Linked DNA regions of Homo sapiens: all the other regions are linked to region 5. The links come from fine-mapping of genetic effects on gene expression. A gene starts in region 5. Each other region holds a variant in brackets. All regions are shown on one strand. Distances are from middle to middle.

What was found. PIP is the estimated chance that this variant, and not a neighbour inherited with it, causes the effect.
Region 1: its variant is fine-mapped to the expression of TMEM71 in whole blood (TOPMed, PIP 0.93).
Region 2: its variant is fine-mapped to the expression of TMEM71 in whole blood (TOPMed, PIP above 0.99). The same link has a PIP of 0.9 or more in blood mononuclear cells.
Region 3: its variant is fine-mapped to the expression of TMEM71 in whole blood (INTERVAL, PIP above 0.99).
Region 4: its variant is fine-mapped to the expression of TMEM71 in whole blood (INTERVAL, PIP above 0.99).
Region 6: its variant is fine-mapped to the expression of TMEM71 in whole blood (TOPMed, PIP above 0.99).

The regions. Positions count from the first base shown.
Region 1 is chr8:132,694,514-132,699,896 of GRCh38, reverse strand. It overlaps a transcript of DNAAF11 not described here. Among named protein-coding and RNA genes, the nearest start is that of DNAAF11, 22 kb to the right of the region's middle. The variant T/C (reference allele first, on the strand shown) is at 3,209.
Region 2 is chr8:132,718,044-132,723,266 of GRCh38, reverse strand. TMEM71 (transmembrane protein 71) reads left to right here. Exons shown (of 10, transcript NM_001382403.1): 7 at 1,152-1,227. Among named protein-coding and RNA genes, the nearest start is that of TMEM71, 40 kb to the left of the region's middle. The variant C/T (reference allele first, on the strand shown) is at 2,368.
Region 3 is chr8:132,829,268-132,834,650 of GRCh38, reverse strand. It overlaps PHF20L1 (PHD finger protein 20 like 1), which reads right to left. Exons shown (of 21, transcript NM_016018.5): 15 at 2,252-2,416. Among named protein-coding and RNA genes, the nearest start is that of TG, 35 kb to the left of the region's middle. The variant C/T (reference allele first, on the strand shown) is at 2,353.
Region 4 is chr8:132,594,187-132,599,569 of GRCh38, reverse strand. The region is part of intron 10 of DNAAF11 (dynein axonemal assembly factor 11); the gene reads left to right. Among named protein-coding and RNA genes, the nearest start is that of HPYR1, 35 kb to the right of the region's middle. The variant C/T (reference allele first, on the strand shown) is at 2,210.
Region 5 is chr8:132,758,288-132,763,670 of GRCh38, reverse strand. TMEM71 (transmembrane protein 71) reads left to right here and starts at 3,089. Exons shown (of 10, transcript NM_001382403.1): 1 at 3,089-3,195; 2 at 4,756-4,831. The coding sequence starts at 4,792.
Region 6 is chr8:132,708,255-132,713,637 of GRCh38, reverse strand. TMEM71 (transmembrane protein 71) reads left to right here. Exons shown (of 10, transcript NM_001382403.1): 10 at 2,656-3,697. The coding sequence ends at 2,671. Among named protein-coding and RNA genes, the nearest start is that of DNAAF11, 35 kb to the right of the region's middle. The variant C/T (reference allele first, on the strand shown) is at 2,692.

The DNA.
Region 1 (5,383 bases), 64 kb after region 5:
TTATTTTGTCTATTTCATATAACTGGAATCATATGATATGTGACCTATTGCATTTGGTTTGTTTCACTTAACATAATGTTTGTATGTTTATCCGACTCACATCTTAGCATGTATTAGCACTTCTTTCCTTTCCATGGCTGAATAATAGTCCACTGTTTGGATATAACACATTTTGTTTATTCATTCATCCACTGGTGGATGTTTGGGTTATTACCACTTTTGGGGCTATTGTAAATGGTTGTGAAGTGCTCTTGAAAAAAAAAGAGTGAGTGAGTGAGTTTGGCAGGTAAGGAAAATGGGAAAGGATATTTGAAGGAAAGGGAGCAACTTATTCCAGGGCAGAGAAAGTTTTCTACCTGGCCTTCCCTCTTTTCACTCTTCCAGGCTGCAGTCTCCACACAGCAATTACAGTGATCTCTCTAAAGCTGACATCAGGCCACTTGGCTTCCTTGTTAATTACCCTCAATCCCACCTTACATTTCCTCTTGCTTAGTACATCACAGCGCCTAGCACTGCTCCCCTTTCTGTTCTTATAACATCACCAAGCTCAGCTCTACCTGAAGGCTTTGGCACTTGTAGGACACTCAGGCAGAAACATTCTTCTTTCTGAACTTCTCAGGGCCAACTTCCTCTCATCATGCAAATACCTCCCCCACAGAGAAGATGTCCCTAGCATCTTAGGGATGTTCTCCCTATTCAGGCACGCCACCCCTGGTCACACAACTATCTCATTATCAGAAATTATCATTCTTTTTTTTTTTTCTTTTTGAGACGGAGTTTCACTCTGTTGCCCAGGCTGGAGTGCAGTGGTGTGATCTCAGCTCACTGTAACTTCTGCCTCCTGGACTCAAGCAATTCTTCTGCCTCAGCTTCCCAAATAGCTGAGATTACAGGCATCTGCCATGGCGCCCGGCTAATTTTTTTTGTGTGTGTGTGTGTGTATATATATATATATATATGTATACATATATATATTTTAAGTAGAAACAGCGTTCGCCATGTTCACCAGGCTGGCCTTGAACTCCTGACTTCAGGTGATCAGCCCGCCTCGGCCTCCCAAGTGCTGGGATTACAGGTGTGCACCATCGTGCCCAGTCAGAAATTATCATTCTTATTCATTTGTGGTGTGTGATTTTTGTTGGTTTGGTTTGGTTCTTGGTTCCTCTCTGTTCTGCCCTATTTTTTTCACCAGAACAGAAGCTCCAGAAATAAGTAATTGCTTAAGGAGTGGATGGCTGGATATGACCCATTAGTGAACTGGCAAGGAATATATTGTGTCTGGTGCAGAGAAAGAGAGCTTCAGGTGGCATGGCATGTGGTGGAAATATTGACTGTGCCCAGATTATTCAAGATGCCCTCTTTATACCAGGCACATTGTAATTTAGCTTTAGAAATTCTCTGGTGTGATGATTTCACAGTACCAAAGGGAACTGAATGCTTGTCTATTATTTATGTTTCAGAGTCAGCATAGAAACCCTGGAAGAGAGTTGCCCCTGAGAAGCAGCTTTGCAAGGGGTGGCAGCTGGCTGGGAGGGGTCAGAAGATCTATGTTCTCTTGTAGTGCTGTGTGGTTTTGGGAAAATCATCTAACCTCTCTGAAATTCAGGTTTCTCGTTAGCACAAATGAAGAGTATATGAGGATAAGAGCTTTCCATGGTCTATTACGAAGTGTGGGATAGGTTTGTGCATACTTACTCTAGTCTCATGCTCAGAACACTCTGCCTTATGTTGTGCTGCGAGGTTGATAGGAATTATAGTTCCCATTTTACAGGTGAGGGTCCAAGAGGGTGAGTCACTTGCTTGAGGTCAATTGTCAACCACTGGAGGAGTCAAGGTGAGGTCTGCCTCCAAGTCCAGGATGTTTTCCACTTGTGCTTCCCTGCCTATCTCACAGGGGTGTTGTGATAATTAAAGACAAGTTATAAATACATACATTTTATTAATATTTTCTGTCCCATTCTTATTGTATCACTGGCCCTAGAAGTAAGATTGAGGTCCTCCTTGCTTCTCATTGCACCTACTGGATGATTATCCCCTCTTCTCCCCTAAAACCTCCAGTTTTGAAGCTCATGACACCAGACTGCACTATCTGCTGCTGCTTCTACGTGCAAATACTAACTCCTCATTTCTTGAAGACTTTAGCATCTCTCTCATTGTCAATCTCTCTAGTACGATTCCAGTCATTCTTGGTGAGCTCCACATACACATTGATGTCTCCTCTCATACTCTGGCCCATCAGTTTCTTTATTTTTATTTTTGGATTTTTTTTTTTTCTTTTTGAGATGGGGTCTCGCTCTGTCTCCCAGGCTGGGGTGCAGTGGCAAAATCTCAGCTCACTGCAACCTCTTCCTCCCAAGTTCAAGTGATTCTCCTTCCTCAGCCTCCCAAGCAGCGGGGATTACAGGTGCATGCCACCACACCCAGCTAATTTTTGTAATTTTAGTAGAGATGGGGTTTTGCCATCTTGGCTAGGCTGGTCTCAAACTCCTGACCTCAAGTGATCTGCCCACCTCGGCCTCCCAAAGTGCTGGGATTATTTTGGATATTTTTTAAAAACTGCTTTATTGAGTTATGATTTATACAAGGTAACATTCAGTTGTTTCAAGTATACAATTTAATGATTTTTAGTTTTACAGTTATGCAGGCATCACTGCAGTCCAACTTTAGAAAACTTATATCACCCCCAAAAAGATCCCTCTGCCATTTGCAGTCACTTGTCATTCCCATCCTTCAGCCCCAGGCTACTAACCACTAATCTACTAACAGTCTATAAAATTGCCTATTCTGGACATTTCATGTAAATGGAATCATGCAATATGCGGTCTTTGTGTTTTTAACTTTTTTAACTTTTATTTTAGGCTCAGGGGTACATGTGCAGGTTTGTTACATAGGTAAACTCATGTCATGTCATGGGGCTTTGTTGTACAGATTATTTTGTGTCCAGGTACTAAGCCTAGTACCCAACAGTTATTTTTTCTGCTCCTCTCCCTCCTCCCACCCTCTACCCTCAAGTGGCCTCAGTGTCTGCTGTTCCCCTCATTGGGTCCATGCGTTCTCATCATTTAGTTCCCACTTATCAGTGAGAACATGTGTTATTTGGTGTTCTGTTTCTGCATTCATTTGCTAAGAATAATGGCCTCCAGCTCCATTCAAGTTCTTGCAAAATACATGATCTCATTCTTTTTTATGGCTGCATAGTATTCCATGG[T/C]GTATATGCACCACATTTTCTTTACCCAATCTTGTCACTGATTTCATGTGGCATAATGTTTTCAAGGCATACCCATGCTGCAACATGAATCTCTACTTCATTACTTTTTATAGTAGAATAGTATTCTACTGTGTAAATATATCACATTTGTTTATCCATTCACCAATTGATGGACATTTTGGCTGTTTCTACCCTTTGGTTATGAAAAATGCTGCTATGAAATTCACATACATGACTTTATGAGATACCTAGGAATGAAATTGCTGGGTCATATGGTCAATTTGTGCTTAACTTAAAAAAAAATGCCAACTGCTTTTCAAAGTGAGTGTACTATTATGTATTCTCAGCCACAGCGTGTGATTGTTCCAGTTTCTCCACATCCTCTCCAATGCTTCATAATATCTATCTTTTCTATTCTAGCCAACTCTGAGTGGATGTGAAGTAGTATATTATTGTGGTTTTGATTTGTATTTCCCTGATGGATAATGATGTTGATTATCTTTTCATGTGCATTTTTCCTGGCAACCCACTTTCTCTGCTTCTTTCCTGCTTATAACTTTGTATCCTAACCCCAAGTTAGGCATATGCACTCACAGTCAAGCCTGGACCTTGTCATTCCCATAACTGCACCTCCCCCATGCCATCAATATCGAACATTCCACTTTTAACCATCACCATCTTTCCAGCTCATTCTTTCTCCCAATAATTTTTCAATGACTGGGATCAAATTCCACTGGTCCTGACACCTTTTCACTTATCCTCAATCATATATTCCTTTGTGTTCTTATTCAGCTTAGATTCCATGTGCTGTCAATAAAATCATTCCCTTGTATCTCTCTTCATTCATTGTACTTTCCGGGTTAAACTCTAATTCTGGTTGAATCGAATACTCTAACTATTATTCAGCTTCACCCACATGCTAAACATGCCTTGTGAAAAAAACACACATCCGGGCCTTTCTTTGAATTCATAACCACAGCCTCATGGTGTGTTTGGTGGTGCCTCGCAATCATCTTACTAAGTCCTATTAATTCACTCTCCCATTCCCCGGGTGATTATTTCATACTTATCCTCTCTCCTCAAAGCTTCAGTACCTCCTCGCCCAGTCTCATTCTTAGATGATGTCCTTCGTTTCTATTTTACTGAGAAAATAGAAACAATTATGAAGATACAGCTAGCTATTGCCACCTCATATATCCCACCTACGGGCATCTGTTCCTACTCTGCCTTCCTTCCTGTTTCTATAGAAGGAAAGTTCTTGCTGCTGTCTAAGGCCAATTTACCACTCATGCATTGCAGCCCACCCTCTCTTATCTACTTATAAAAATTGCTCCAGGAATTGTCCCCTCCCTCCTACAGCAGCAGCATGCCAGCGTGTTGTAATAATACCTGTCTTAAATAAGACCTCTTTTGATTCTTCGTTGCTTAGAACAATTCCCCTCCTCCATTCCTCTGCTTACAGTAGCAGCAAAATTCCTTGGTAGATTTGAGTTCTGTGCTTATTTGTCTCCATTTCTTCTCTTTCAAGTCTTTCTCAAACCCACCCCAATTAGGATTTGACTCCTACCGTCCATGCAAGTAGCCCATGTTAAAGACGTCAACAACCTTCAATGTTGTTAAATCCAATGGTCAGTTCTTAGTCCACATGTTGACTTGACCTAGCAGTATTTGAAGTAATGACTCCCTCCTTCTTAAAGCACTTTTCCCACTTGGCTTCTCAATTTACCAAACTCATTTTATATCTCTTTTGGTAATTCTTCCACATGTTTTCAGCATTTAAATTTTGGAGTATGCCAGACCTCTTCTCTGCCTAAACTCACTTCTAGAGTGGTGCCATCCATACTCACGATTGTAAACACCTCTGTAAACCATGACTCCTCCAACTAGATCTCCAGCCTGGACCTCTGTTTCTCATGCATATGCCAAAGTTAATTCTCAAAATTTCCATCTGGATGGCTAAGACATATCTCAAACTTGACATGTCCAAAATAGAGTTTGTAGTTCCCACTTCCTCCAAATCTGTCCCTCTACTGTCTTCACTATCTTAGTTAATGGCAGTGGCATCATTCAATTTTACAAATTAAAAATTTAGGATTCATCTTTGCCCTGTATTAGTTTGCTAGGGTTGCTGTAACAAAGTATTATAAACTGAGTGGCTTAAACAACAAAGCTGTA
Region 2 (5,223 bases), 40 kb after region 5:
ATAGAAACACACTTTAGAAGGATGGTTGAGTATTCAGTTGAACCCACAATAACTGAATTCACAATGTACATGAACAACTGTACATTTGCAGTGACATAATTTACTACTGTGATATTTTGAATTGCCAATCTTCAGCATTCCACCCGCATTATGGGCTAAGTAGGTTTTGTTAGCTGACTCAATCCTCATTCATGGCATAAATAGCAAAAATAAATGCATTCATAACATAAAGTCATTCCAAGTTTTAAACAACTGTTGCAAAATTGAGCTTTTGAAGCATTTGGCAAAAATTAAGTTGAGGTCTGTTTATATTCTCCTTTAGGTTTTTTATGTGGTAATCCTCAAATCAGCTTTAATTTATTTAAGGTGATTAGAATAATACTGAGGTTCATGATTGAATTAACTCTTATGCTTATAATTGCTGGATAATTTGTAGTTTCTACTGTGGCTTGGCAGTACTGAAATATTGTACTGATTGCAAAGAGTTTTCAAAGACAAATATTTCATAATATATGTTCTCATTTTTTGTCTTTAGAGACTTCCATTATGCAAAGTTGCAATTGTCTTTCCCTGCCCACTTCAGACAAAATGTTATGTTCTGTCTAGATGTGGTTTTTAAATCTTGGCTGTGACACCTCATAGCTATGTGACCTTGGACAAGTTCATCATTTCTCTTAGTCTTTTTCTTCTCTTTGCAGAACTAAGATAATGGCATCCACCTCACAGCGTTGTTGTGCTGTTTAAGTGAACTAACGTATACAAGCTCTTTGTGAATTATAAGGCACTTTACAGATTTTAGACATTATTATTATCACAATGACAGAATTAGATTTCTTACATTATCATAAACTCTACAAAGCCTTTCCCCAACATTAAATCAAAAGGCAAGCCCTAAACTGTGAAAATAGCATAGTCTTTTATTTTATAGTGATTGAAGAAAGTAATTATTTGCAGAAATTTTCTAATGACAGCCCTGTATAACAGTAGGTAATTTTATCTTGTTATTTATGACACATTGCTTGAACTGACATACATTCCAAAACTTTTTTTTTTTTTTGGTGGGTACAAGGGAAGTTTGAGATGATTTTTTCTTCCAAGATGATTGAATCAGCAATGATTTCTAATTTATTTGTTTTTGTTCTTCCTATTAGAAACCAGGTTGTTGCAAGAGGTCTTCTTTCAGGCAATCCTGCTTGCTGTGTGCTTAATCATTTCTGCATGTGCAAGGTAATTCACGTTTTATTTTCATGCAGCGGTATTTCATAATTAGTGAAACTATAGCTGATTGATGATTTCCTTGCCTTATTCCACAAAACATTTTAGGTAGCTCTGTGGTTGAGATTCGTTCATGTGTCTGTCCATGATAAGTTTCCCTTTATCTCTCATTGCCCACCTCTATCCTCTCACAAAGCATACAAAACCTAGAAAGTGGGCCAGGCACGGTGGCTCATGCCTGTAATCCGAGAACTTTGGGAGGCCAAGGTGGAAGGATCACCTGAGGTCAGCAGTTCGAGACCAGCCTGACCAACATGGTGAAAATTAAAAGTATGAAATTAGCCAGGCGTGGTGGCTCATGCCTGTAATGCCAGCTACTCAGGAGGCTGAGGCAGGAGAATTGCTTGAACCCGGGAGGCAGAGGTTGCAGTGAGCTGAGATCCCGCCATTGCACTCCAGCCTTGGCAACAAGAGCAAAGCTCTGCCAAAAAAAAAAAAAGACAAAAAAAAAAGAAAAAGAAAACCACCTAGAAAGCATACAAAACCCAGTGTACGTTGCTTAAAATTGTATTTTACAGTGGATTGCTTTTTCTCCAAAGAGAAGTGGCTCCTGTTAACAGATATACTCTAAGTATAGCTGGAGTTTAAAGCCACTTGAAGTTCCCACTGTGCGATTTAGGGTCCCTGCAGAGACTCCACCCTTCCCATTGTATTTGTATATCCCCACATAAATTGTCTCTTCATGCCTTCTTATAGGTATGTTTGTTCTCTACCCTCTGACCTGTATGTTCTTCCTCTGCCTTGTTTTCCTTTCCCTATTCAAGTCTCCAGGGCAGTGATCAGGTTCCTTGGTGCTAGGCCCACTCCTGTCTCAGGGCCTTTGCACTTGCTTTTCACTCTGCCTCTTAGAATCCTCCAGATAGCCTCATTACCTGTGACCTTACTTCTTTACAAAATCCGTTCAAATGTCACATCATCAGAGAGATCTTCCCTGAAAATCCTTTATAAATAGCATGCCACTCTTTGTCGCATGCACCTTGCTTTACTTTTCTTTTGAGCACTTATTACCCCCTGACCTGTGACATGATTAGCTGTTGAAGTTTTAATGGGATCTGCCTCTCCCTAGAAGAATGTGAGCTGCCTGACAGCAGA[C/T]ACATTGTGCGTCTCCCTCACTTCAGTATCCTCAGTGCCAGGGGTTCTTCAATATTTATTGAATCAATGAAACAAAGGTGAATACAACAGTCCAGGGGTCTTTATGGTTCTTGAACTCTGGCCAGCAAGGGCTGCCTGCTCTCGAGTCCCACATTTTGAGGGTCAAATACAGCAGCATCACTTGGAGGAGGTGCTTTTTTAAATACAAAGTCCTAGATCCCATCTCTTGAGATTCTAATTAAGATTTACTGAGAATTGGTAATTTAAAATAAGCTTCCCAGATAATTATGAGGTTTGCAAAACATTTTTAGATCACAATGGGACCACAAGAACAAAAGTGGAGTGTGTGTGTGTCGGAGGGGGTGCTTCTGTGGTTAAAAATAAATTTGCAAAATTCTGCATTCTATATCCCAAACTGGAAGACCATGATGTGCATTAGTATAATAATCAGTGAAATAATGTGGTGAAGGAACACGTCTAGCTTTATTTCACTTCGTGTTTTCCGCACCTCCAAGTTGATCGCAGAGCCCTTTCTTTTCTTTCACAGGACTGTAAATGGTATGTTTCTTAGGTTAATGTTTGTGGATACTCCTCCCTTAAGAGGCGGAGCTTAACTCTTAATCCTTTAAGGGAGGGCTGCATTTAGAAACTTCTTCCAGGGAGTAGAGTAAGGAAGGGGGTAAGAAAGGTAACTCTTCAGTGGAGAAACAGGACAAACACTGCTGCAAGTGAACAAGTCAGCATCAACAGAGATAAGTTACACTGATTGCATGTCCCCTTGATACGACGTGGTGAGAATGGCACTTTACCTCTGTGGTCTTCCACATCCCAGTCTGCCAAAAGAAAAATAGCAGAAAAAAAAAATTAAGGGACATTCAACACATTATCTGAGCAGGACTTTCCAAAACTGTCAAGGTCATCAAAACCAGGGAAAGTGACAAACTCTCAGAGCCCAGAGGAGCCTAGCAGACGCAATGACTAAACATATGTGGTGACCTGGATGGGATCCTGGAATAGAAAAAGGAAAAATCCAAATGAAGTGTAGAGTTGAGATCATAGTAATGTACCAGTGTTGGTACATTACCATGTTCCTTCATTGTGACAAACATACCACAGTAATAATAATAGAGGAAGCTGACTGGAGACCACATGAGAACCCTCTGTCCTAATTTTCTGATTTCTCTGCATATCTAAAATTATTCTAATAATGTTTATTTGAATTAAAAATTGACTAAAACTGTATAGACGTGGGCAAGAGCATGGATGTTTCTCATAGTAAGTGATAGGTGACAGACAGGAAAGTTGATATGTTTGCACATACAGGTTGAGTATGCCTCATACAGAATGCTTGGAACCAGAAGTATTTTGGATTTTGGACTTTTTGTACATTTGGGAAAATTTGCATATACATGATGAGACATCTTGAGGATGAGAATCAAATCTAAACAAAATTCCTTTATGTTTCATATACACACAGCCTAAAGGTAACTTTACACAATATTTTAGGGAATTTTCTGCACCTGTGGCATGAAGTCAGGTGTGGAAGTTTCCACTTGTGGCATCATGTAGACACTCAAAAAGTTTCAAACTTGGGGCATTTCAGATTTTGAATTTTTTATTTAGAGATGCTCAACCTGTGTATATAAAATTCAAGAAAAGGCAAGACAAATCAATTATTATAGATGTAAGAATAGTGATTAATTCCGAGGGTATATACTGAAAAGGACAACCAAGGAACCTTAAAGGGCGCGGGAAATATTCTATATCTTGATCTGGGTAGCAATTACAGGTGTTTATACAAAAAATCAAAATCAAGTTGTACACTTTATAGGCTTTGCTGTATTTATGTTAGAGCTCATTTTAGAATAACAGTTTTAAAATGCATATAAAGAGATTTCCAAAGGATATTCACCAGATTTTATTAATAACTTCTTCCATATGGTGGGATTTTTCTGATGATATTTTCTTTTCCTTTTTGTATTTATTCGTAATCTCTTTCAAATGATTCACATTTTGAAAATAAAAACAATAAAAATACTATTCTTTTTTGAAATAAATCTACTCAGTGACATCATCACCCATCATATTGGCAAAAATTCAAATGCTTGGTCACACTTTTTTGACAAGGTTGTGAAATAGCAGACATGCTCCATCATTGCTGTGAAATTTTTAACAATTTATTCTTAAAATCCCCAGGTAGGGGGGCTGGGCACGGTGGCTCACGCCTGTAGTCCCAGCACTTTGGGAGGTTGCGGCAGATGGATCACGAAGTCAGGAGATGGAGGCCATCCTGGCTAACACGGTGAAACCCCGTTTCTACTAAAAATATAAAAAATTAGCCAGGCGTGGTGGTGGGCACCTGTAGTCCCAGCTACTCGGGAGGCTGAGGCAGGAGAATGGTGTGAACCCGGGAGGTGGATCTTGCAGTGAGCCGAGATTGTGCCACTGCACTCCAGGCTGGGCAACAGAGCGAGACTCTGTCTCAAAAAAAAAAAAAAAAAGAGAAAATCCCCAGGTAGGGAGATTCCATAATGTCGACCAAGTTTAAAGTTACATATCTCCTTTGACCTGGCCAGGCCTTTTCAAATAATTTATTGTGTGAAATGACATATGTAAAATGCTATTCATTGCATTTTAAAAAATGCTATTCATTGTATTTTTAAACAGATTTTAAAAATTATTTTTAAGTGCACCTTTAGTGGTTTTAGTATATTTACAAAATTGTGCAACCATCACCACTCTAATTCTATAACAATTGCATCACTGAAAAAAGAAACCCTCTACCCATTAGCAGTTACTCTCCTTTCCTTCCTCTTCCACCTCCTGAAAACCACTAATGTACTTTCTGTCTCTGTG
Region 3 (5,383 bases), 71 kb before region 5:
ATAAACAGTATTAAATGGGCCGGGCACAGCGGCTCACACCTCTAGTCCCAGCACTTTGGGAGGCCGTGGTGAGAGGATCACTTTAAGTTAGGAGTTTGAAACCAGCCTGTACAACAAAGCAAGCCCTCATCTCTACAAAAGCAAAAATAATTTGCTAGGCATGATGACCTGTGCTGGTAGTCTTAGCTACTCAGGAGGCTGAGGCAAGAGGATTGCTTGAGCCAAGGAGTTTGAGGCTGCAATGAACTACGATCACACCAGTATTTCAGCCTAGGCAACAGAGCAAGATCTTGCCTCAATAAATAAATAAATAAAAATTAATTTGAAATTATATCATTGAAAGGAATTAGTGTATCTCACATATACTTGCATGGCAAAGATTACCAGTTTTATGGTGTTAGCAAGCAAATTTATCATATTCTCCACAAATCTAGTTTGAATAACTCCCAAGCATTAAACTTATGCTTAGCTGAGTTTTGGAAGTTGAGTAAAATGGATGACAGAGCTGAAAGTTATGTAAGAAGCAAATAAAAGTTCCCCCTTACGCTTGAATAGCCACCTAGACAATGGCTCCAACTGAGTGGCCACAAGAACAGCTGTTGCCTTCCAGCAACTACCCCTTAAATTGTCATTGCTATTTCCTGAGACAGCATTTTGCAAGTGTGGTTTCCTGATCAGCAACATTTATCATCACCGGGGAACTTGCTGGAACTCAGAAATTCTGAGGGTGAGGCCCAGAAATGTGTTTTAACACACTCTCTGGGCAGTTCTGACACATGCTAACATTGAGAATTTCTGGCCTAAGGCCTTATTAATTTTCCTTTTCTTTCTCCTGACTTAGTACTTGATCATAAGGGCAGGGCAGAGACTAAGAACAGAGAGTACACATCTATGGCTCTTTTCATGCTCTTTCAAGGGTTCTTGTTTCAGCACCACAACTAGCCTAGATATAACCCCTATTCTCCATCTTTCTATAGCAAGAGATAATCTTCAGATCTTGATGATTCACAGTAAGGATGTTCTTAATGTGATTATCAACCTCTGCTTCTCCATAGCATCACCTAGAAGTTGTATCTTGCCAGGATCCTTCCAGAAATCTCATTCAATTGTGCCTCATGGTAGGATCCATGATCAGTATAGTTTAGAAGAACCGCAGCAATGATTGTAAGGTTCACCGGGGGTGAAGAACCACTGAACCATGGGAAAAAGTAGACTTGTATTTGCTGGAAAAGGGTGGTGGTAACTTCTTTTTTAATCCCCTCCCATACCTCAAGGTTCTAAAAATAAAATCTCACAAGTGTCATGAGCTATAAAGGAAAGAAAATGCTTTCTCCATAACGAGCCAGGGAGGACTTAGACCTGGAAGCAAACGGTGCAAAAGCAAACATTTAACCTAGTATCCACCATCGAGGTCAGTCAGAAGAAAGAAAAAGGGAGGAAGTGAGCTCACTCACAAGGATCCTAGGTTGTACTTATGCTGAAGGCCCCGTCCCTTATTCCTCACTCTCTGACTCTGGTTGCTATTGCATTAGAGCTCTACTCTTATGCCACAGCCCTCAATGTCTACAGCTGGGATCTCTGTGCCTATTGCTTACAATATTGGAAGCAAGGTAAGAGTCTTCAACACTTTCCACTGTCAGGACTGGACCTGCAGGAAAGTCTAACAGATTTGAACTCCAGTGCTCCCTTCACTGCTGACGTGGCCTTCTGACTACCTAAGGGCGCTTAGTTCCTGCCTGTGTTTAAATCAGTTGTCTGACTACATCTCAGGACTTTGGTTACAGATGTATCTGACCAGGAATTCAAAGTATACTTTTAAGATTACCATAAATGTTTATTTAAGAAAGCATTATCTACGGAGTTAAGACAGACCTTGGTTAGAGTTTTAATTCTAACACTAGCTAAGCCGAAAAGCTACTTACCCTGTAAGTTTCGGCTTGTTTATATATCAAATGTGAATAATACCTACTCTGTCAGTTGATAGTGAAGAATATAAAAATATATGTGCAAAAACCTACAGAAGTATATACACTAGTAATATTTTCCTTATGACTCTCTTCCACCAATAAGTATAAAGCCAATTTAACTTTATATAAATTAAAAAGTAGCTCAAATTTCTCACATCAAGACTTTCATATTAGTTTAGCTAACAAGTTTTTAAATCGCATGCTCTTAACAGAGTACGTTTTATTCTCAGTTACACATTTAGGAATTGTAAGTCTTGTTTTAACCATCACATGGTTACACATACTTTCACCACTAAGATCAACGGATAGAATTGCCCTTGGGTACTGATAGGTTGTAGTTTTCTCCGTAAACATGCTTCGTGAAGCCAGAGAACTCCCAGAAGAT[C/T]GAGTTAGTGGAGAAGAGCACCTTTCCAAAAATTCGAGGGAACTGTCTTCATAGTCTGAATAGTCTGCAACATAAGATACAGAAAGAAATATTAATAAAGTGTCAGATAATTAAGGTCACTATAAAAATAACGAAAGTCATGTTTCAGGATACACCAAATAATCATGCTACCACTTTCGCTTCTCATCCATGAAAAGCTACATATGGATCTGATGAACTGGGTTTAGCAAGAACACTTGGGAAACAAATATACCCCAGACAATATATACATAGTAGGGGGCACCAGGTTCTAACTGGTACCTGTAAACTTTTGTGAAGTACTATAGAGGTGAAAAAGGATTATTTCACATTTTCTCTCCATTATAATCACAACTATGTCTGCAGTAAAATATGCAAGATGACAACACATGGACACATGGGGAAGAACAACACACACTGGGGCCTGTGGGAAGTGGGGGAGAGCATCAGCAAGAACAGCTAATGCGTGCTGGGCTTAACACCTAGGTGATGGGTTGATCTGTGCAGCAAACCACCATGGCACACATTTACCTGTGTAACAAACCTGCACATCCTGTACATGTACCCCAGAACTTATTCGGTTGGTGCAAAAGTAATTGAGGTACTTTTGTACCAACCTAATAAAAGTTGAAGAGGAAAAAAAAAAGATATGCAAGATGGAAATTCACCTTTTTTCTTCCCCACAATTCGTAAAGAGGTTCTCCTGATGTCTGGCACACCAATTATACAGTGATAATCTGATCAATAAATTTTTCAAGTAATAAATCTCTGAAGGTAATTAACTAGTCCTGGAAGAACTCTGTAAAAATTCTGTTTTTCTCAGTTTTGTAATGAGTCCCACAGATGTGTGCAAGGGGAGAGGCCATATGCAGCTTACTGGAGAGTTGAGGGTATAGTAAGGGAAGGAAAAAAGGAGGTGGGGGTGTGATTCCAGGCATGTGGGAAGGCTCTGAAGCTGAAGAGTGCATGCCACATTTGGCAAGCTGTAAGACTGGCTGGAACACAGTGAATAAGGGAGAAACAAAGCTAGAGTGACAGGAGCCAGATTAGCTTTTTTTAAAAAGTTTTACCCTAATGCAATAAAAAGTCATTCAATGCTTATGTGGAGGAGGAGCAAGATGTGACAGTTTCATTTCCAGAGGATCACTCTAGCTGTGGAATGGAGGATGGAATGCAGGAAGGCACACATAGAAGTGGGGGGACAGTTCAGAGGCTACAGCAGTAGTCCAGGAAAGAAATGTTGGTGGCTCAGAACTTGGGTGATGGCAAATAAGGGGAAGATTTTAAGGAAGATGGAGTGCTGTTATAGACTGGAGGCCGAGAGCTAAGACGGCATTATCAAGATTGATTTCCAGGTTTATGCGTGAGCAACAAGGCAACAAAAGTGGGTATGAGATGGGGCTGAAGAGTAAATGCAAGGTGGAGAAACCAGAGAAGAAACAGAAGTTTAGAAGAGGGCTCTGTAAGATGGGAAATCTTACACATTACCTACATGAACCTTAAGATGTGGGAAAGGGGGATGGCAGTGGTGAGAAATGCTAGATTAAGAAAAGCAGACATTCCCTCCATTTTAATAGAGGCTAAGATGATGAATATTTTCATGTAAGCATGCAGATGTGGTAGATAGAGTATGAGCAAGTTCCCACCTGATGATGTCTGTCTTCTCAACTCTGTGAGGAAAAGGATGTCAAGTGACGCAGGTTAGGGAATACATGAGAGGTGGAAATGAGAGATGGAAACGAGTGGGAAAAAGGAAAGACAGAGAGTGGAAAAGTGAGCTTATAAGAGACGCATTGGTCTGTGCTAAGTATCCATTTGAAGGTGGCAGCTGTGGGAGACAGAATAGTCTGCCAAAAATGTCTATGTCCTAAACCCTAGAACTTTTAAATAAGCTAAGCTATGTGGAAAAGTGGAATTAAGGTTGCTAATCGGCTGACCTCACAACAGGGAGAGTATCCTGGATCATATGGGTGGGCCCAATGTAATGGCAAGGGTCCTTAAAAGTGAAAGGATGGAGGCAGAAGAGATGACGTGAGAGTGAAACAAGATGAGAAAGACTGGACCACTGCTGACTTTGAAGATGGGAGCAGGACAAGAGCCAAGCAATGCAGAAGCCTCTGGAAACTAGAAGAGGCAAGAAAACAGACTGTCCCTAAGAGCCTCCAGAGAAAAATGGAGCCCTGTTGATACCTTGGTTTTAACCTAGAGAGACCCATTTTGGACTCCTGACCTCCAGAACTTTAAGATAATAAATACATATTTTTTTAAACCACTGATGTGCAGTAATTTGCAACAGCAGCAATGGGAAACTTACACTCATCATCATAAATACCACGGCACAACCAACACTGATTGAGGGCTCTCTATGTGCCAAATGCAATTTTCAGTTCTTTATGTGTATTAACTCTTTTAATCCTCACAAGCATCTAATGAGGGAAGTAGGACTGCTAGTAAAGAATTGAGGCAAGACAGATGAAGCAAATTGCCCAAGAATATACAACTATCAATAGCAAAGCCAACATTCAAACCCAGGCAGCCTGACTATGGAAGCTACACTCTTAACAAATAAGTGATATCGGTGTATTTCAACATTTAAAGGGTGCACAAGCTGGCAAGCTTGTTAAACCCCAGATTCCTGGGCCTCATCTCCAGTGCACTGGGAATGAAACACTCCCAGATGATGCTGATGCTGTCAGATTACAGCAGTCTTTGGGCAGCACTACGCTATTCTGACTCCAGTGGCCTCACCATAACCACAGTTTGCCCAACACCATATTACTTAGGCCCAGACATGGAAAGGACATTTATTAAATGCCAGGTACTGTATCAAGTACTTTACAATGATTACTTTATTTAATTCGAATAATAAATCTATGCAATAAAACTATCAATTACCATTTATTTTAGAAGAAAGGAAACTGGGATGTAGAGAATTTAAATAACCTGTCAAAGGTCGCTTAGCTGTAAGTGTTACGGGCAGGATTTGAATACCTATACTAAACCTTCAAGGCTG
Region 4 (5,383 bases), 160 kb after region 5:
TAAGCTTTTTGATGTGCTGCTGGATTCGGTTTGCCAGTATTTTTTTGAGGATTTTTGCACCGATGTTCATCAGGGATATTGGCCTGAAACTCTTTTTTGTTGTTGTGTCTCTGCCAGGCTTTGGTATCAGGATGATGCTGGCCTCATAAAATGAGTTAGGGAGTATTCTGTCTTTTTCTATTGATTGGAATAGTTTCAGAAGGAATGGTACCAGCTCCTCTTTGTACCTCTGGTAGAATTTGGCTGTGAATCTTTCTGGTCCTGGACTTTTTTTGGTTGGTAGGCTATTAATTATTGCCTCAATTTCAGAGCCTGTTATTGGTCCATTCAGGGATTCAACTTCTTCCTGGTTTAGTCTTGGGGTGGTGTATATGTCCAGGAATTCATCCATTTCTTCTAGATTTTCTAGTTTATTTGCGTAGAGGTGTTTATAGTATTCTCTGATGGTAGTTTGTATTTCTGTGGGATCGGTGGTGATATCCCCTTTATCATCCTTTATTGCATCTATTTGATTCTTCTCTCTTTTCTTCTGTATTAGTGTTGCTAGCGGTCTATCAATGTTGTTGATCTTTTCAAAAAACCAGCTCCTGGATTCATTGATTTTTTGAAGGGTTTTTTGTGTTTCTGTCTCCTTCAGTTCTGCTCTGATCTTAGTTATTTCTCGCCTTCTGCTAGCTTTTGAATGCATTTGCTCTTGCTTCTCTAGTTCTTTTAATTGTGATGTTAGGGTGTCAATTTTAGATCTTCCTGCTTTCTCTTGTGGGCATTCAGTGCTATAAATTTCCCTCTACACACTGCTTTAAATGTGTCCCACAGATTCTGGTATGTTGTGTCTTTGTTCTCATTGGTTTCAAAGAACATCTTTATTTCTAGCAGAGATAATATTTAAAGAGATAATGGCTAACTGCAGGATTTATACTTAGGGTTTTTACATGTATACCCACTGCACAAACTGAAAACATTTTATATACCTTCAGTCTGGGAGATATTGTGCTATACTTTTTATGAATAGAAAAATAAAATTGGCTTGGCCCCTGCCCTGAAAGACTTTACCACCTACATTCATATATCTACAATTATGACTATTTAGCAAAAATTGTATATGCTCTGTGATAAACAGTTTAAACAACTCACTTTCTGCAATAACCCTGTAACCTGGGGATTTTTATTATCCAGATTATTTAATGAGGCTTGCTGAGGTTATATACATTTCCCAAGGTCATAATTTAATAAATAGATGTGTCATGTCATAGAAAACACTAGATTGGGGTCATTAGTTCTCTTCTTTCAGAATCCTGTAATAAATGTGATAAGTAGACACACCATTTAGGCTCTTGCTTTTATCCTTATACCAGTTAATAATAACGACAAAGACATAGCTACTATTTATTGAGCATTTACCATGTGCCACACACAGTGTTGAATACTTTGAACATCTTATGGAGTAGGGGTGATTATCATTTTGCAGAAGAGGAAATGAAATTCTGATGTTGCCTTAAATCATAGGGTATGTTTCCAAATGAACACAAACAATGCCTCATAATTTTCATCTACAGCCAGATTACTTTTGGATCATTAGCAGCTTAATATAGTAAAGTGCTTCACCTTTAAAATTTTGTTCCCAATATTTCTACTCTAAAATAAGGAAGTGGTTTAGGATATTTCATGAGTATCAGTATCTTAGCAGTCTTTATTCTCCTGTGAAATTCCCCCCCAACCCCACTAAGAAAATTGTTGAGGATCAAAAGTAGATACAATGAAATGTATCCTTTCTTCCATGATTCCTCATACCACTTTAATTGGAAGATAACCTGCATAGTTACCCAGCTTGTTGTCAACTGGGGACAAGGAAATACACATTATTTGCAGATAATTGTTTTCTTCAAGGTTATAGAGAAGCCTCTTTTCCAAATCATGGGCATCCTCTCTAAAACCTTGCCTGGCATCCTCCCAGACCAAGGGGTTGTCTTTTCTCTTTTCTGTGTTTCCTGGAAGTGAAATAAACAAATGTCACTTAAATAATGAAATCTATTGCTGCCAACTTCATACATTCTTGTCAAAATAAACATATAGTAGATACCAGATGAAGGTCAGGCCCTAGCTGCTCAGAAGGTAAGTCAGATCTCACCAGGAGCTCCCTGCACAGCTGACCTTGATCCAAGAATGGAATCAGCTTTGCGGGCACTGGAAACTCACAGGCCTCCCGTTG[C/T]GAGGTGAGGCTCCTAGGTATGAGGGAGAAGGCTCCTCAGGGCTACACACAGGGCAGGTGGTGCTCTCAAGAATGGCAGTGCTCGGTGGGCTCTGGGGAACAGCCACGTCTTGAAACAGACCCATCAACTGCATCTTTCTTGTATTCTTTATATCCATGAATCTGTATATGGTTATTTTAAAAATAAAATAAGAGGTGACCCAAGGCTAGCTCTCCACTGGTCAAGTGATGTCTCTGTCCCTGACTGCAAAGGCTCCAAACACAGTCTTTCTGTGACTTGGTTTCATAGCTTCTGCAGAACTGCAAAGTTGCCACTTAAAATGGGCTTTGTCCCTTTTTCCCATTGGCCAGTTGGGGTGGATGACAGGTCATTCTTCTAATTGCCAGCAATGAGGAGGAAAACATAAGACAACATCAGACAACAATTCAAGACAACTGGGAGAAGCCATAGACTGTGGCAATTCCCTGCACAGCTGTCCCTAGTCGGACAGATCTCATCACAGTCCCTTCGAGGCTGGGAACCAGGCTGATGCCCCCATCACTCTGGATCCTTACAGGGGGCAACAGGAGAGGGAGTGTCGCTCTTTGTTTTATTCCAGTGTTCCTGATATTGAAGCTTTCTCCTAGGCAGTGAGGCTAAAGTAGCCTAGGCAAGTCAGCCTGGTTATTTGCTCACTTTATCACCTACTGTGAACACCACTACTGTGAGTGGGAGGAGCCTCAGGTCCTGGGTACTTAGCCTGCAGGTCAGACAGAAGGGTTGAATTCAGGATGTCATTTTTTTCCTAAGGCACAAAACCCTCTCCAGCATGTTTAGAGACTGTCTCTAGCAAGATTGTAAAAGAAAATTTTATTTTCATTTTATATATTATTCTCAGTCTTAATGTTTGTCCTAACTTAATAAAATATTTTCAGTTTTAGACTGCAATGTGTGGATGATCTTCTATGGGGAACTGTCAGAAGAGTGACCTTCCAAGTAGAAAATAATTTTGAAGGAATCAGTTGATAGTTAGATTTGCTCTCTGGTTACTCAAGGCCACATAACTGCCTTATGTAACTGTCAGTGTTGATTTTACATATACATATCAGTAACTACATCTTTAAAAATTTTCCTCATAATATAAATATTAGCAAATTATTGGCCTGAGAATCAATGACATTTTGTATGCACCTGCCAATTGACGGGCCACATGAATTCATGGTCAGCATGGACTTCCTATCCTGCTATCTTGCTGATATCCAGCCTCAATAATTTAAAATAGCCAAATGAACCCATGATTTCCTTCTGCAGACCTGCTCCTCCCATAGTCATCCTTGTCTCAGAAAATGGCGCCATCAACTGATACACAGTTGTTCAAGTCAATGATTAGGAGGCATGCTTAACTACATCTTGCGGGTACCACTACTGAAATACATCCTGAATTCAGTTTCTTAACACCACCTCCCACCATCACCTCCCATCAAGCCAGTGTCCTCCCCCAACTGGACTACCTTGGACAGCCTTCTCACGGTTTGCCCTGCTCTATTCTTTCCCCTCTTTGATACTTTCTCCATAGAGAAGCCAGAATGCCCTTTTATTTACTTTTTCGTTTATAGTTGTGTTTTAAAATATTTTTTCTTTCCTATTATGAAATTATGACTGTAGAAATAGAACACAATGTAAAGAAAAAAATAACTCATGGTCCCACTATCTGGATAAACATTTTGTTTTGTTTCTTTTCAGTCTTTTGTCTGTGCTCAGGTGTAATTATTTCAACGTGGTTGTTATTTATTTTTTTTAAAGAAGTAAATTTTGCAAAATAAAAATATACATCTTGCAAATAATAGCTTTATTCCCGTGTTGAAACCTACCAATGGCTTTCCATGGCACTTGAAATATATTCAGACTTCTTGTTGTGGCCCAGAAGGCTGTGTACAAGGTAGTTTCTGCCTATGTTTCTGATACCTTCTTCCACTTTTCTCCTCTCATATTCTGGACACAGCTTTTTTTTTTTTTTTTTTTTTTTTTTTTTCCCCTCTGTCTCTCTCTCTTTCGGGAACACAAAAAATTCCAAAAAGGTTCTGAAACACAGGAAATTCCTATAAGGTTCTGGAATACAGAAGGTTCCAATAAGTTTCTGGAACCTTGTTCCCACCGGCAGGACTTTTGTGTTTTCTGTGCTTTTTCTGCCAAGAGCATTTCTGCCCCTTTCTCTGTTTACATCTGTATTAGTCTGTTTTCACACTGCTATAAATAAATACCCAAGACTGGGTAATTTATAAAGGAAAGAGGTTTAATTGACTCACAGTTCCACATAGCTGGGGAGACCTCCAGATCATGGTGGAAGGTGAAGGGGAAGCAAACGTGGACCGTGGCAGCAGGACAGTGTGTGAGGGAGCCAGAAAGACTACCATTTATCAAACCATCAGATCTCGTGAGAATTCACTCATTATCACAAGAACATCATGGGGGAAACCACCCCCATTCTTGGTACCAATTTCCTTTGTTAGTCCGTTCTCACACTGCTATAAAGAACTGCCCCAGACTGGGTAATTTATAAGGAAAAGAGGTTTAATTGACTCAAAGTTCTGCATGGCTTGGGAGGCCTCAGGAAACTTACACTCATGGTGGACGGGGAAGCAGGCACATCTTACATGACAGCAGGTGAGAGAGCCTGTGAAGGAAGTGAAGAGGGAAGAGCCCCTTATAAAACCATCAGGTCTCCTGAGAACTCCCTCACTATGAAGAGAACAGCATGGGGGAAACTGCCCCCATGATCTAATCACATCCCTCCCTCCACACAGGGGGATTACAGGTCCCTCCTTGACACATGGTGATTACAATTCCAGATGATATTTGGGTGGGGACACAGAGTCAAACCATATCAACATCTGTCTCCTTTGTATTATGCAGGTTTGGGCTCAAATGTTACATTTTTAGAAGGACTTTTCTTTTTAATACCAGAGCTAATATAGCCAGTCACAATCTCTATAAGTCACAGTCATCTTTCTCAGCCATATTACTTGGTTTATTTGATCACAGTATTGATTACTGTATGAAATGGCCTTATTTGTTAAATTTTGTATGATTTGTCTTTACCTATCTAAATGTGGGGATTATGAGAGTAGAGACCTTGATTCAGCCAATGACTGGAATAGTACTTGCCTTCTGGTAAATAAATATTACAACAAATA
Region 5 (5,383 bases):
GCAAATAATTTTGACAGATGGTGAGACCATGTTTCCTGTGTATAGTAGCAAGTCCGAGTATCATTTAAAAGATTCTATAGTGACCTCTATTAGAGACCTATGCTTTCTAGAACTTTTTGTACTGAAATTTGCCACTCGTCTTTTCCCCATCCACACGCATCACCTCCATTAACAGTGGAGGACTGAATATTCTGTGGAACATGCTTTTAGAAACATTGATTTATAACATGCAGAATAAAGGTTCTGAAGGCAAGTCTACCTGGATGTAATTAATTTATTTGTTAATTCCACAAACATTAATTGATAACCTACTATATGGGAAGCACTACTCTTGATACTTGGGCTATTAAAATGAAGCAAAATGACAATATTCTCTGCTCTTTTAATGCTCATGTTCTGGCTGAGGAGTACGTTTCTTATTACAAGGAATGAATTGTGTGACATATTCCTTGGTAAAAAGTGCTAAGGAGAAGAATAAAGCAGGAAGAGACTAGGGAGTGGTGTGGAGGGCAATTAATTAGTAGCAAGGCAGTGGAGAAAAGAGCTGAGGGAGGGGAGGAAGAAAGCCCTGTGACCCTTAGGGTGAGGGAACACTAACCTCAAAGATCTTGAAGTAGACCCGTGTCTAGTGTATGAGAAACAAGAAGAAGATGAGTGGGTCTCAAGAGAGAAGATTGAGAGGGGAACCATAGGTTTGGAATTTAGTTCTGGCCATTGGCAATTTTGAAAGATTTATGCAAACTCTATAAACCTCTGTCCTGCATGTGGATAACAATTGCACTTATTTTCTAGGGCTACGTGAGGTTGAAACAAGATTACATATGTACAGTGTTTAGTGCAGTGCCTGGTTTGTAGAAAATGCTGACACACGTTGGATATGATCATTACACTTATAGGTTAAGAAAGCAAACTCGAGAGCCATCTCATCAGGGTTTGAATCCTAGCTCTACTTACTCATCACGTACTGGCTATGTGAATTTGGGCAACTCTCTAAACTCAGTTTGCTCTTCTGTAAAATGAGAATAATAATACAGCATCTCCCATGGAATTGATGTAACAATTAATGTGTTGATATGTGGAAAGACCTTAGAACAGTGCCTGGTACATAGTAAGCACTCCTTAAAGTTAGCAATTATTATGATCATTAATAATAAGGTTCTAATATGTGCCAGATCTTTAAAAAAAAAAAAAGTAGACCAAAGTCTTTCTGATGTGAGCTCTTCGGAAAAGTGGATTTGTGGGCACAGGAAGAGCAGAGGGTCTCGAATAAGTCAGAAAGATTTTCCTCCCTCATCTAGAAGAGATAAGCCAAGGCTGGAAGAGGGAGGATGAGGGATAAGAAAAACAGGAAAAGGAGAAGAAGAGAACTGTGAATTCCAGTAAAGAGAATACCAGACAGCTGTGAAGCAGAATAGCTGTCTGTTAAATTTAGGCAGATGTGACCAGGAGTAGCCTTGAGTAAATGTGACTATATTCTACAGGAGTCACTAAAGCAGCAGAGAGTCAGCAATGACAGATGGCTCAGGAAGTGACCTGTGTTAGGACTATGCATCTGCTATGTGTTGCTGTGTAACAAATTACCTCAAAACGTGGTGGCTTGAAATACCATTTGTCACTTCCCAGTTTGCGTGGGCCAGGGAGCTGGGCAGGGCTAGCCTGGGTTGTCTGCTTCTGGGTCTTTCCCAGTTCCAATCGAGCATTAGATGGGGCTGCAGTCAGCTCAAGGCTCAACTGGAGAAGGATCCACTTCCAAGCTCACACACTTGGTTTTTGGCTGGATTCCTGGCTGTTGGATGGAGCATCAGACCCTTACTGGCTTTTGAGACCACTCTTGATTCCTTGACACATGGGCTTCTCCACCATGGCAGCTTGCTTCATCAAAGCAGGCAAGCAAGAAAGTAATAGAGTCCAACAAGATGGAAGCCTCATCATGGTAGTGGAAACTCAGCACCTTTGCCTTACTTTATTTACAAGGAGCATGTCAGCAGCCTCAGTCTACACTCAAGGGATGGAGAATAGACATGAAGTTCCAGAGACAGAGAACTTTGAAATTAGATGGGCCCTCCTCCTGACAGTTCCTGCTGCCTAGAACATGTTCTACAGAAGATCCTGCCATGTGGCAGAACCTCAGGGGGAAAGGGAACCCCAGGAAAGGATGAGATTAACTTTTCCGCCAGCCGGACCAACTGGTGCCTCAGAAGAGAACTTGATTTAAGAAAACAAATAAAGAATACACCTTGCACATCTGTGCTGAGGACTCGATTATTTCTCATTTCTTTTATTTCATTTAATTCTTCAAGCCATCATATGACATATATATTTTTATGTTTATAATTGAGAAAACTGCAACTCAGAGGGGTAAGTCACAAATCTGAGGTCACACAGCTAGGATGGTAGACAGGTTGAATTTCTGTCTTGTGACCCCAGAATCCGCACTCTTTCCACTATGCAGTGGTACCTCAATGTTGCTGGAATATATATTTGAATGTACATTTCTTTTATCACTTACAGTAGTACAGATGTGTATGAACCCATAAACACCATCAAGTCTTTGAGCTCTACTATAATGTAAATGTAAAATGCCATCTATAGAGTTTTTTGTGAAGTCCAACCTTCATTAGATAAACCTATTGCCTCTATAGAAATTTTCATAAGATCAAGCTCTTGCTATTTAATAGTATTCTGAATTTAATAGCATCAGTGCATTATCCTCAATAAATTTAAGTGATTTGGACAAAGATCACTACTCTGCACTACTTATAACTGAATGTGGCCATATGATGAGCAAGAAATGTCAGTTCGCTGAGTCTTTCTCACGTTCTCGCAGCCAAAGGTGACAAGTTAGCTCAGAAAACCACCCCTCCAGTGACCAGGGTGTAACCAGCTGGCCTGACACATGGGCTGCACATTCCCTGCTGCTGGCCCAGGAAACTCTCTGAAATCTTCAGCACACTCCTCAGTGTGAATGCCACTGATGTGAGCCCAACAGGAAGTGTGACCTCATTCTGCTTCTTTGCCTCTGGTTACGCAGGCTGTTTTCAAAAGAAAACAAGAGAAGTTGTAAGACTGACTTTCCCAAGAACTATACACTCATTTATACCAGGAAACAGACAAGAGAACAAGAGGCTGCCGAAGACAAAACTTCTCTGCAAGCACCTGTGCACAGCAATGTGCGTGGGCATCTGTGAGAAGAAGGTAGGGTGGGATTCCCTTTATTAAGAGACTTCTGCACCTGTTGACATTCAGACATTTTTCAGCCGAGGAACTGCTCAGTCCTCAATTTTTCCACTGTCAACCACAGGAAGCTTCGTATTTCAGTAATAATTTTGTCCTTTGTCAATTGGAAGAAGAGGCTGGGAACTCCCTTTGGAAGGAACACGTATGCACACATTATTTTTCAGAATAGATGTGTCGCTTTGATGGAACTGGCAGATTCTGTTTCTTGAAAAGTTTTAGATCTGTAACTGAAGGGCTTTTTTTTTTCCTACTGTTACTAATTTTCTATTGAATGTCAGTGTACTGCCTGTAGATTCTTCTAAGCACTTGTGAGATAGAGCAATAAGACCTTCTTTTGCTGCAGGATTTATAGGCTTAAAATTAAGCTTAATACTTGGGGAACACTAAAATAAGGTAATTTGGGCTGGGCATACCCGTACAATATTGATCAAAAATGAAAAGAACAAGTAACATACTAATATATTACATTACACTGGGATTATTTTATATCCCAAACAAATGAAATTTGTAAATGTGTGCTTTGATTTAGAAATCTTCCAAGGAAGGCCAGAAAGTTCTCCTGACATCTTTACAGGTCTCTATAAACCAGGTTTATATTTTCCTAATAGGGTTTATATATAATTTATTGAAATATTCAACTTGAAGCTGTAGAATTAGCCTGGTTTGATTGATTGAATTACAGCTACAAAAACAATCCATTACTAGTTCTCATGTTACAAAATGTGGCCATAAGTGGTGAATCAGAAAATAATTTACTCCTACCTTATAAAGCGATTAGGATAGTGATACTATATACAAAGTTTCATAGTCAACAGAAGTTGGTTCTATTTGATGAACAGTAAATGATCAAAGTTTGCATAATTTACATACTTTGATATGTTTTTAATTAGTAATTGAGAAATTAAATCATGTCTTCATGGGAACTAAGTTCTAAAATCTTCCCAATGGTATGCTATCTTTAGTGCAACATTACTTATGCTGTTTAGGAATGTCCAGGCTGATAAAAACTATTAAAATCACTCTCTGTGACTACCTGTCAATGGTTCAAGTTGTTGGGAAAAAGACAGACACCAATCTCCAAGCACTGTTTGAAACTTGATAATGAAGTTGACTTGTGTCAGATGATTAAAATACACGTAAGTTTGTTTTGGGGCTAAATGACTGTTAGAACCAGTCATTTTATTAAGATTTCTTAATCAAATACCTCACTTTCATTATTTTCTTTGGATTACAAATCAACCTTTTTAAGTCTAGATTTTCCAAATAAAGTGTGGTTCTTATTTACAGAAAAATGTTATTGAGATGCACTGAGTGAGGCAATGGAAAATGTTCAGTCATAGAGGCAGACACAACTTTAGAGGGGTTGTGTCTTCAGTCTGGTCTCCTACCTTCAATTCTGTATCTCTGTATTATTTCAGTAAACAAATCTGACTAGTGCAATTAGTAGATGCCATCTGTTTTGGCATAATTTTTCTATTTTTAATATATAGTCCACCTTTTTTTTAACATCTTTTGCAGAGAATCTGTGAAGTTTGAGCAAGCGGCCTTCCCAAGATGTACCGAATATCTCAACTGATGTCAACACCAGTAGCAAGTAAATGTAGAAGAACTGTGATACGCAATTATCTTTTGAACGATTAGACTCCTTTTAGCAATTTCCTTGCTTTGATTTTGCTGATACTCAGACCATTAACCATCTGTCAGTAGCTTGTGCTTCTTAAATGCCAGTGTTCACTTTGGCAATGATTTTAACTTCATTTTTTTCCTTGAAAGAAATGTGGTATTTTTCCTTCTAGTAGAAAAAAAAAAATCACCGTTTTTTTTTAGATGCCTGTGCATAAATGTGAAAGGAGATTGTTTATCAGCTACTATTAAGATGCAAAACTGTTTGTATATAAAAAATGCTGAATGATTTTGATAGCTACTTGCAGAAAATAAGAGCGCTGTTAAAACGGTAGTGGTTTCAAGTTTCTTCCTTCCTCTTGTTATTTTCTCCCAAAACCCCACTTCTAACTCTCCCTCACACACCCACAGTTTTCTCCCTACAAATCAACCAGCCCAATCTGAAAGTCTAAATTCCTTTCTTTGTCCTAGATACTAATTGTCCATAATGGAATCAAATTTCACTAGCTTGTCTGTTAGGACT
Region 6 (5,383 bases), 50 kb after region 5:
ATCTCAGTTACAAACTGTGATTTCTGTGCCTTCTCTTATTCATTTAATGATCCCCTTGTGTGTTAACTGCCATGGTTCAGCATATTTCAAAGGGTTACTGGGGTCTGGTTGGGATGCCCATAGAATTTCAAACAGTCTGGATAGCACCATCCTATTGCACGATGGACTGTGTTAATTACCTTCACTTCAATATGGCTGCCAGAGGCAAACTCACATGGCTTGGAGACTGAGGTCTGTAATTCACCATGGCACTCTTACAAAATCTGCGCTAATTCTGAAATCACAATGGGGTTTAGTGAAAATTTATTTTGGTTAGGATTCTAGCCAATATTGACTTACTGACATTTTGAGTGATGCTTCCCATAATTTCTGGGTATTTCTGGTTTCTGGGGGTGCACATACAGCTAAGTTTTATTCAACCTGATATTTAGAAAATCGAATCTCTGGGTAGCTCAAGAAATCCTTATAATTTAGCCCTTGAAATTAATGACAAGGCTGGGTGTGGTGGCTCACACCTGTAATCTCAGCACTTTGGGAAGCTGAGGCAGGAGACTTCCTTGAGTCCAGGAGTTCTAGACCAGCCTGAGCAACATAGTGAGACCTACGAAAAATAGACAAAATTAGCTGGGTGTGCTGATGCGCACCTGCAGTTGCAGCTACTGGGGAGACTAAGATGGAGGAATTGCTTGAGCCTGGGAGGTGGAGGCTGCAGTGAGCTGTGATTGTGCCCATGCCACTGCACTTCAGCCTGGGCTACAGAGAGAGAATTTGTCTTAAAAACAAAAAGAAAAAGAAAAAAGAAAAAAGAAAAAGGAGTTAATGACATTTGTTTAAAACAATTATTGATTTCTAAAGTGGCACCACCTAAGTTACCAAATCTTTATTAAGAATTTACAATATGTTCTATACGGTATGGGGTACCAAGTTTAGCTCAGTTGCTGTTAATGAAGTGTCTACCATGGGTTAGACACAGTCACTAGGTACCAGGGTGTGAATGCCCCAGCATGTGGCTGGCTTTGAGATTTTATCATCTCATTAGAGTAAAGGACTTGTAAGGGGCAAGGTGAAGTTGCCTTTTAATATGGTAAGTGCAAATATCAGGTTAGTACAGGAGCCAGGGGGAGCACAAGGAGGTCAGTTTCCCAGACTAAGAGGAGTGGGGAGTATGTTCAGGGAGGGCCTCCTGGAAGAGCCAATATCCGATCTGCAGGGGTTATATCACCTGCTGTTTTCTCAGAACTTCCCATTGTTCTGAGCTCATTGTTTGTTCTCTCCCAAAAGAAATTACATCAGGACAATATTTCTATCCTGAACAAACACTTTTATCTTCTGACTCATTTATGGAAGGAGATCCTTTCTTTGATTATTTGTGTACATACTTTGACTTGTTCTTCTCTTGTTCCCAACTCCATTTTTTCCTGTTTCCTGCCCACCAGCCTCATATACACACACATTTGCATTTAAGACCTGTGAAAACAAGGACTATTGACTTCATTTTTGTATCTACAACCAAAGCCTTGAAAATAGTATGTACTCTGTACATATTCATTAAATTTAATGTATTTACTGCATCATTTCTTGAAGTACTTCCTTGAAAGCCAAGAGCTCTGCGTGTATATTAAAGATTTTGCAACCCTCTCCTTCTTATATAAACATACCGAGAAACTAATAAACCAAAGATATGGTTATTAATATCGAGAATCAAGAATGACTCATAAGTCTCCTCTAACAATCAATGATGAGAATCTAAGGAACTGAATTCAGTTCAACAAATATTAATGCAGCACCCTCCCCCCAACACACACACCCATCCTGCACTGTGCAAGTTAGATTAGATTAGGTGCCTCTTTAGCACCTCACACGGCTCACATCATATCCCTTTTCATAACATAATGAAATTCTTAGTCAACTGCTTTCCTGATTAAATTTAAAGCCTGTGAAGATAGGGACTATCTGTCTTGTCCACCACTGGCCTGAGTGTCCCTTGCAAATGAAGGTCAGCACAGGTATCTCATGTTAGTAATGATGTGTTAGCATCAGCGGTACACGTTTTGCACACTTATGATTTCATAGTAACAAAATGGGTCACATCTGTTCTCTCTTAAATGAAGGAATGTATGTTCGTATACTTAATGAATGAGTGAATAAACTTTAGGGAATAAAAATATGGGGAAAATCCACCTGTTACCCTACAGGCTGTTCTACGGGGCAGGAGAGAGCAATTTTCTGGAAGGTGTATTCTTTTGAGCCATTTTCTTTACCAAGTTTTTAATCTTCTTGAGGATCATGATTACCTTTCACTTAAAGTGCAATTAAAATACTGATATAATACAGAAAAATGCCATAAGGGCAGGTGGGAAGAGGAAACCATAGGAAATATTAGTTAACTAAGTACCACGCTGGGCTGAGGGGTCAAAACCTCTATAGTCTTTCAGACAAAAAGGAGAGCACTAAGAACTGCTGGGATAAAAGCAAAAACGAAAAGTACCCTTAGTTGAGGCTGCACTCTTCCTAGTTGTGATAATTCAGGCCCGTTGTGGGTATGGGTGTGGGTGTGTGCTTATATATGCGCAAATGGGTATGCAGTGATTAGATACTGCATTTCCTGTGCATGGGGATGAATTATGCATTTCTTTTCTTATTTCTCCAATCTAGGTTTGTCAAAATTTGACAACCATTTAGGAATGCCTT[C/T]GATGAATGTCCTCCATCTGAATATCTGGAAATTGTCCAACTTGCAGTCTACTTGGAATCAAGTGTTTTATTGGAAGGGAGTAAGCGAGTAATGGAGAAAAAGCCATTTTAGTTTGACTATGTGATTTTAAAATGATCTCAGTTTTTCCATCAAAATTATAATATGCTCATGAAAATAATATTAATTTGCCTTCCCTTTGCAAACACCGGCAGTTGAAAGGAAAAGGACGGGGAATGTGATGGAAAAGAGACCGCCTGGAATAAATGTCCCCCTATGATTCTTTAAGGCAGTGGTTCTCGAGCTTGAATTTTCATTAGGAAATTCTGTGAGGAGCTTGTAACCAGATTTCTGGGTCTGCCACATGCACCTATCTCTTGCTGAATTGCTTTAATAGAATAATGAGAGCAAGTTTGTCTAACTAATACCAACCTGACAACTTGAATAACAATAAATGCAATTTGTACATAAAATATAATGCTGCAAAAGTTTGTCATTCACCTCAGTGGAGTGACTTGATATTAGGTGGTAACCGTAGATGATGGTTAATATGAAAATGGACAGGAAAGAAGCATTTTCTGAAAGTTATATTCTTTTGAACCACGTTCTAAACCAAGTTTTTAATCTTCTTGGGGCTCGTAATTACCTTTCACTTTAATGTCACTTAAAGATATAACACAGAAAAATGCCTTGAGGGCAAAATATAGGCAAAACACCAATGCGCTTTCAAATGCATGAAAATGGTGCAGTTGTACCCTTGAGCCTTGACTCAAGGGCTGTAGATGTTCCCTTTCCACCCCCCACACTTGGTGCGTGTTCACAAAGCAAATATGGCCTGTAATTCAAATTTGTTCTATGTGATACTCTCTGAGTAAAAACTCATACATGCAGAAAATTGTCTTTGCTCGAAATGATAATGCCAAAATATAACTTTATATATAATTTGCATTTAGTACATTTTTGGTTAAAAAATAAACTAATAAATAAGTGAAGTCATCAGCAAATTTATATTTGTGTGTGTGTATATATATATGTATATATATATTTTTTTGAGAAATCATGGCAGAACATCATTCATTGAAGACTGTATTATTTCCCTATTGCTGCCTTAACAAATTACCCTAAACCAAGTGGCTTACGGCAACACAAAGTTATTGTTTTACAGTTCTGGAGCTCAGAAGTCTAAAATAAAGGTCAGCAGAGTTATTTTCCCTCTGGAGGCTTTAGGGAAAAATCTATTTCCTTGCCTTTTTTAGCTTCCAGTGGCTGTCTGTATTCCTTGGCTTGTGGCCCCCTCCTCCACCTCCAAAGCACACCACTCTGATTTCTTACTTCCATCATTACATCACCTTCTCCTCTTCTGCAGTAAAATCTCCCTCTACCTCCCTCTTTAAAGGACACTTGAGACTACATTTAGGATCCACTCTGATAATCCAAGATAAAATCTTTGACTTAATGACACCTTCAAGGCCCCTATTTTCATATAAGGTAACATTGATGGGTTCCTATGATTAGAACCTGGCTATTTTGGGGGACCATTAGTAAGCTTACCACAGTTGTATTTGAAATAGCCTCGTGTAATAATTTAGTAGGTCTGGGATATGTCCCATGCCTTTGCCATTTTTACAAGTAGGTTAAGTGATCACAAAGTGATCCACAATCCACGTGCATGAATGCTTTGAAGTGGGATTTAAAATGAATTTAATGGAGAACTAAATGCATATGGAGCCTTTCATTTAATACACTATTAGGAGAACTTCCATTGAGAATTTCTACATTTCCTTTGTCTATGTGTAACACACATTTTTCTACAGAGTCATTTGATTTAAATGATAATGTTTTTCAAAGTAAGATACTGAAATAGTACTAACTGTTTACGTGCATATAATGCTTCATTGTTGACAAGGACATTTTCTCCCCGGCTGTATAAGCTTACTATGGCTACAGTAACAAGTTACCACAGATTTGGTGGCTTAAAACAATGCAAATTTATTATCTTACAGTTTTGGGGGTCAGTCCAAAATGAGCCTTACAAGGGTAAAACCTAGAGACTGCTTGCATTCCCTGGCCCCTGGCCCCCTCCTCCATCTTCAAACCACTTCACTCTAGCCTCTGCTTCTGTGGTCACATCTCCTTTTCTGACTTTAGACATCTTGCCTCCTTCTTTAAATAATTTTTGTAATTACATGGGGCCCACCCAGATAATCCAGAATAATCTTTCCATTTTAAAATCCTTAACTTCATCCCATTTACAAAGTCCTTTTGCCACATAAGGTAATCTAGTCATAGGTTCCAGAGTTCTGGAATGCAGATATCTTCCAGGACCCAATGGCTAAGGCCTTCCCCAGTGAAAGCTTCAGATGAGAGGCCGGTGCAGGACAACACCTTCTTTACAACCTTGCAGAGGACGCAGTTAAAGACCTCTGCAGAAACTGAGATTAATGTGTGTTCTAAGCTGCTAAGCTTGTGCTAATGTCATTACATGGTGATAGATAATGAACACAACATCCACTGATTCTCCTCCAAGTGTATAAAGTGTGTTGCTGTGCAAAATGACTTTAGGACATGTCCCCTAGCAGTGGGCTCCAGCCAGATGGTTGCTCTTGAGCCCCACTACTTGGAGTGGAGAGTATAACCTTAATATCCTGCAGATCCATCTGTGACAGAGGTGCACAGGACCTGACTAGTGATGTG